Regions from separate parts of the Homo sapiens genome. Here region 1 is linked to region 2. The links come from fine-mapping of genetic effects on gene expression. A gene starts in region 2. The other region holds a variant in brackets. All regions are shown on one strand. Distances are from middle to middle. Region 1 holds the start of HTRA4 (HtrA serine peptidase 4). Region 2 holds the start of ADAM32 (ADAM metallopeptidase domain 32).

What was found. PIP is the estimated chance that this variant, and not a neighbour inherited with it, causes the effect.
Region 1: its variant is the best candidate, but not a certain one, in a credible set for the expression of ADAM32 in visceral fat (GTEx, PIP 0.67).

The regions. Positions count from the first base shown.
Region 1 is chr8:38,972,481-38,975,350 of GRCh38, reverse strand. It overlaps PLEKHA2 (pleckstrin homology domain containing A2), which reads right to left. Exons shown (of 12, transcript NM_021623.2): 12 at 1,439-2,870. HTRA4 (HtrA serine peptidase 4) reads right to left here and starts at 1,123. Exons shown (of 9, transcript NM_153692.4): 1 at 622-1,123; 2 at 221-320. The coding sequence starts at 1,087. RefSeq lists an enhancer at 487-546 and a silencer at 727-956. The variant T/C (reference allele first, on the strand shown) is at 1,811.
Region 2 is chr8:39,106,365-39,109,271 of GRCh38, reverse strand. ADAM32 (ADAM metallopeptidase domain 32) reads right to left here and starts at 1,538. Exons shown (of 25, transcript NM_145004.7): 1 at 1,439-1,538. The coding sequence starts at 1,496.

The sequences.
Region 1 (2,870 bases), 130 kb after region 2:
CAGCCACCTAAGTGGGCAGGGGGAGCTGGGATTTAGAAGTCAGCATCCTTGTGCCTCTGCTCTTTGGTTAAATGACCTTGAACAGGTTATTCAACCTCTTTACGTCTCAGTTTCCTCACTGGTTTTTTAGGATTAAATGACGCTTGCGAAGGGTCTGGAGCAGGTAGGCACGCAGAAACCATTAGCTGGGACAGTGGAGGTCTTCCTCCTCCTCCTTTACCTGCCCCACAGCTGCACGTGAACCACCGATGGCGCCACCTTCTCCACCACCGCGGCGATGAAGTTGTAATTCCTCCTGAGCGGGCCTGCGCTTCTGGTCCCTATGAAAAAATACTGGCTCAAGAGTACGCCTCGAGGGAACCAGACCTGCTATCCTAGTTGGAAAAATGTTAAAGGCAAGACAGTGTTCAAAAGGTGCATGGGGAGGGAGAAACCACGTAGCAGCCGGTAAAGAGCCCCTGTTAAGGAGGAAAGGAAATCAGGAACACAGAGGTGTCGAATCCAGGAGGCAAATGACGCAGGAGGACCAGGCGCGAACTGTGCGGTCTCAGTGAGGTCTTGTTCCTTTACGCTCCTCCAGAGTTAGAAAGTGTTCCGAGGGCGCGCGCCCCCGCGGCTCACCTGTATCCCCGCAGTTCCCCCACTGCACAGGCACGGCCGGGACCTTGCCCAGGCGGCGCGCGGCGCGGTTTTCGGCCCGGAGCGCGCACATGCTGGGGTAGGTGCGCCTGTCGCTGCCGCACACGGCCCCTCCCAGCGTCGGGCAACCGCAGGTGCTGGGGAACCCGGGGCGCAGCGGCTGGAGGCACTGCAGCCCCGGGGCGCACGGTTGGCCCTGCGCCCCGCCGCAGACTTCACGCTCGGCCGCGGGGCAGACGCGGCAACAGCGGCACAGGTCGAACACCGGCGTGGTCCCCAGCGCGCAGGTGGGCAGCGCGGGGCAGCGCGTGGGCTGGCAGACCGCGGGGCAGGAGGGCTGGGTATGTAGCTTTTCAGCCCCGGCCCAGAGGACGGGCACCAGGAGCAGCAGCAGCCCCGGCAGGAGGCATCGTCCCAGCCCCGCGGTCCGCAGCTGAGGTCTAATCATCCTGTTCCTTCCTCGCTTCCACTCTTCAGTGACTTTACTCTGGACCTGCAAACCCTCCTAAATGAGAGACACTTTCTCCCGGCCACGGCGCCGCCTCCGCCGGCCCCCAAACTTTAAGGGGCAGAGCCTGGCATACCTCTGCATATACACACCCGTACATCCCCTACCACCCGCCCCCGTCGGCGCCCCGGAGCCAGGTTCTCCCCCAGGCAATGAGGGGAAGGTCTCTAGCCCTACCCGGAGCAGGAACCTACCTCCTGAAATCCCTAAAACCGACAATGAGGGCAGACTGATAAGAAAGCTCACCCACCCATGGTCAGAAGGTCAGTATTAGGAAAACACATGACCATATTTCAGTATTTCACATGGTTTTATTACAAAACAAGCCACAAAACAGTTTTAGAAAATTTTTGCTACATACCAATTAGGAGATCACATAAAATGAGAAGCGTAACAGTTTCCATGCACTCAGCCTAGAGCTTACAGCGAGTGCATTTCACAGCTGAAACATCACTGCTTTAAAACACAGAATCATGCTACCCCTTCATAAGCAGAGGGGGAGGAGGTCAAACAGTATGTTTTTGCCAAACGTTTGCTTTATCTGAACTCTATCTAGTATGAAGGACTGGCTGCCGCAGGCAATAACACAGAGAGGAAAAGGAACAAAGGAAGAAAAGGGTGCTGGCAGACAAGATTTAACAAACCTGTCCACTTCCGACATTT[T/C]GAAAGTTTATAAACAAAGCTCACTTGGGGACACTCAATTTCCAAAATGCTGTGACCTCCACATGTTATCTAATTTATACTGAAAACAAACCTACTAAACTCCACTCCTCAACTACTGAACCTGCTATTTATTCATGGGGTCTTTTTAGCCCATATAAGAGTATATTTATATTCAGAAATATAAAAGAAAAAAAATTTGCTTCAAGTAGACTAAGAAGCTGGACCTTAAAACTACTTTCTTTCTCGTGGGAGCTGAGTATTCAACTCAGAAATAGATGTATAACTCCAATATTCTGACCTGACATCAATCTCCATAATGTATACCTCAATACCCTTATGATGTCTCACTTAACACTAAAGGCCAAATTATTTTTACCAACCATCAGCTGACATTGAGTAAGCAAGTCTTTTGAAGATTTCAAAAGTAATAGATGGTGGCCAGGCGTGGTGGCTCACACCTATAATCTGAGTACTTTGGGAGGCTGTGAGGCAGGAAGATCACTTGAGCCCAGGAGGTCCAGGCTGCAGTGAGCCATGATCAGGCCACTGCACTCCAGCCTGGGTGACAGAGTGAAACACTGTTTCTAAAAATAAAAATTAAAGAATAATGGATGGCATTATTCAGCCATGGGGAGGACCACCTGAAATACTGTTACACACAGTGGGTCAAGACCACTTCAAAAGCCTTATGAAAATAGCACAACTCAGGCAAGGCTTTTATTCCACAAAGAAAATGCAGTACATTTTTTAGTTCCTTTAAAAAAAAAAAAACTCAGATTTACTCCAGAGCCTATGCACTTAGTCACTAATCTATACTGCATCCCCAACCTATTTTTTCCATTTGGTTCAATTTTATACATTTAAAACTAACTGCTTTGGTCAAATACGTACCATCTTTGGTTCACATTAAAAGATTATGGTCCAAAACTGGCCAGAAGTTAAGAAATATCAACAAAATAGGAAGTTTGAAATACAATTTAGGAATGGAATGCTTTTAGAGCTTGTTTCATTGAAGATAATAATTTATCTCATATTGAACTACATTAACGATGTTCTGGCT
Region 2 (2,907 bases):
CCACGCCTGGCCGTTACTTTTATTTTTAATGAATGAAATACACATTCTTACATTTCTATTTTAATTTCTAATATGTTAAACATCGATATAAATCCACATAAACAAAAGCTCTTTGAGAATCTCAAAAATTGTTCATGTATAAGGCAGTTCTGAACCCAAAAACTTTGACAACCACTGCATTAAAATTTTGTATGTGTTATGAACTGAATGTATCCCACAAAATTCTATGTTGAATCCCTAACCCCCAATGTGACAGTATTTGGTTATGGCCTTTGGGAGGTAATCAGGGTTTTAGGCATAGAGTGGGACCCTCATGATGAGATTCATGCCCTTATAAGATGAGACATCAGAGAATTTCCTCCTCCTGTCTTTCCCTGTACACAAAGAAAAGGTCCTGTGAGTACGCAGGGAGAAGGTAGCTGTTTACAAGCCAGGAAGAGAACACTCACCCTAATCTAACCAGGCTGACACCCTGGCCTTGACCACACCTCTGCTATGCTGCAGAGGTAATTATGGCAGGATAGGAAGAAGAGTAGGAAGAGTTCTCAAAAATTTACAGTATCACCAGGGAGGCTTACATGCAAGTAAAATGTTTGGATATGCCCGTATTTTTTTCCTTCTCTTATTACATACTATTCTGAATCTTGTCAGCCAGAGTCAGTACATGGCATGTCTTACTTCCTCCCTCTCCACAGTGGTCCATTTGCATTGTTTGGAGATAACCACAGTTTATTTAGCAGTTCTCTTACTAATGAACTTTTACAGTTTTTCAATCATTTTGCTGTTAAGTACTATATTAGTCAGCTCCCACTGCCATAACAAAATAGTGTAGACTGCATGGCTTAAACAACAGAAATTTATTTTCCTCATAGTTCTGGAGAACTACGATCTGGAGTCTCCCTCTGTTGCCTACTGTTGCCCACTGCACTCCAGCCTGGGCGACAGAAGGGACTCGGTCACACACAAAAATAATTTTTTTAATTTATAAAAAAGACAGGATCTCTGTCGCCCAGGCTGGAGTCCAGTGGGGGCGATCTTGGCTCACTGCAGCCTCCACCTCCTGGACTCACGTGGTCCTCCTCCCTCAGCCTCCCGGGTAGCTGGGATCACAGGTGCGCACCACCACCTCGGAACATTTTTTTAAATTTTTTTGTAGAGATGGGGTCTTGCTGTGTTGCCCAAGCTGGTCTCCAACTCCGAGGTCAAACAATCAGCTCGCCTCAGTCTCTCAAAGCCCTGGGATTACAGGCGTGAGCCCTGGTGCTGGGCCCTGAGTCGCTTCTCCATCCGGACGGGGCGCCTAATCCCCTGGAAAAGGCCCCGTTGCCAGGGTGACAGGACCAAAGGGACCCAGACAGGGAGGGCCCCGGGCTTTGCAGGGAGTCGGGCCGCAGTGTGACGAGCGCCCGGACTAGTGTCAGGGTCTGGGCTGGCTCACCGGGTCTTGACGCCAGGAGGCCGCAGAGCCCGGCCAGCAGCAACCAGAGGCGGAACATGGTGCGGCTTCGGGGCTGCCAGCGGGAAGCCGTTGGGAAGTCGGGAATTGCCAGGGACGCGGGGACGCGCGGACGCCGGGGGCCGCTCCCCGCACGTTCATGGGACAGCGTTCTCCGGAGGCCCCGGAGACGGGGTGCTCTCGGTGTTTAGCGTCCGGAACACGAAGGGCCCGCAGCGTGCGCCCCGAGGCTAAAACATCCAGCTCCCTTCCCGGCGCACCCCAGCCGCGTGGTTGCTGGAGCCACTGACCACCCAGCGCCCTCTGTCGAGATCGCGCTCGTAGTCCTCCACTAACTTTTCGCTTTGTGTTGCTGGACCTTAAGAACTGACACACTTATTCACAGTCAGCGTGTGCTCTCCTGCACCAGACACTTCCCAGTTGCTTTTTTTTCTTTTTGGGACGGGGGTGCTCACTATTCTGCCCAGGCTGGTCTCGAACTCCTGGGTTCAAGTGATCCTCCCTCCTCAACTTCCTGAGTAGCTGGGATTACAGGCATCTGCCACCGTTCGGGGCTTCCTAGGTCCTTTCAAAAGCGAATGTGTAATACTTTCTGAATTAAAATCTATATACACACCTAAATATATATTCATATTTGCCAAACCTGTTTCTAATATTTTTTCAAAACTATTTAGCCAGATGTGTGAACATTCCAAAGAAGGGAAAAGTGAGCCGCTTTTCAATATGAAATGCCAGCTCTTCATATTTTTGAAGAGCGCCAGCTGCATTTTTTTCCCCACTGACGCTGCCCAAATGGACTTCACAACCAGGCTTTTTCCTCCAATCTGGTTCTCCGCAGGCCATTGGCTAAAACTCATGTGATGTCATTCTATTGTTCAGAAACTTCTCAGTGCAATAAATACTTATTTCATGTAGTGAAAGATTTAGAGATTCTTGCCCACAATTACAGTAATTACATTCCAGTAGAAAATTCTAGCCTCAGCATAGTAATTTTTCTGAACTCAGACCGGAACCTGCCACTTAATTTCTCCTATCCCGTGTTTTAGCAGCTCTGACTTTGGGTTTTTCCTAAACACTGCTTTACTCCCTGGAACTGCAATGCCTCCTCCTTCCCAGCCTCACACCTGGTCTCCATCTGTATGCATTAGCTTTTCATTCTTTTCAAATCCCAAAGAATGGATTAATTTCTCATACTACATAATAGGCCAACACATAAACTAAAAGGCCTCATGGGAACAGAGAAAAATCTCACTTGGGGAACTAAGACATTTAAAGTGAAGATGTGATTTTTATGGATGCACGCAATTTCAACAGGGCAATCTACACCTGAAATTAATAGCATGAACAAAAACAAGGCAACAGGCCAGGTGAGGTGGCTCACGCCTGTAATCCCAGCACTTAGGGAGGCCGAGGTGGTTGGATCACCAGAGGTCAGGAGTTTGAAACCAGCC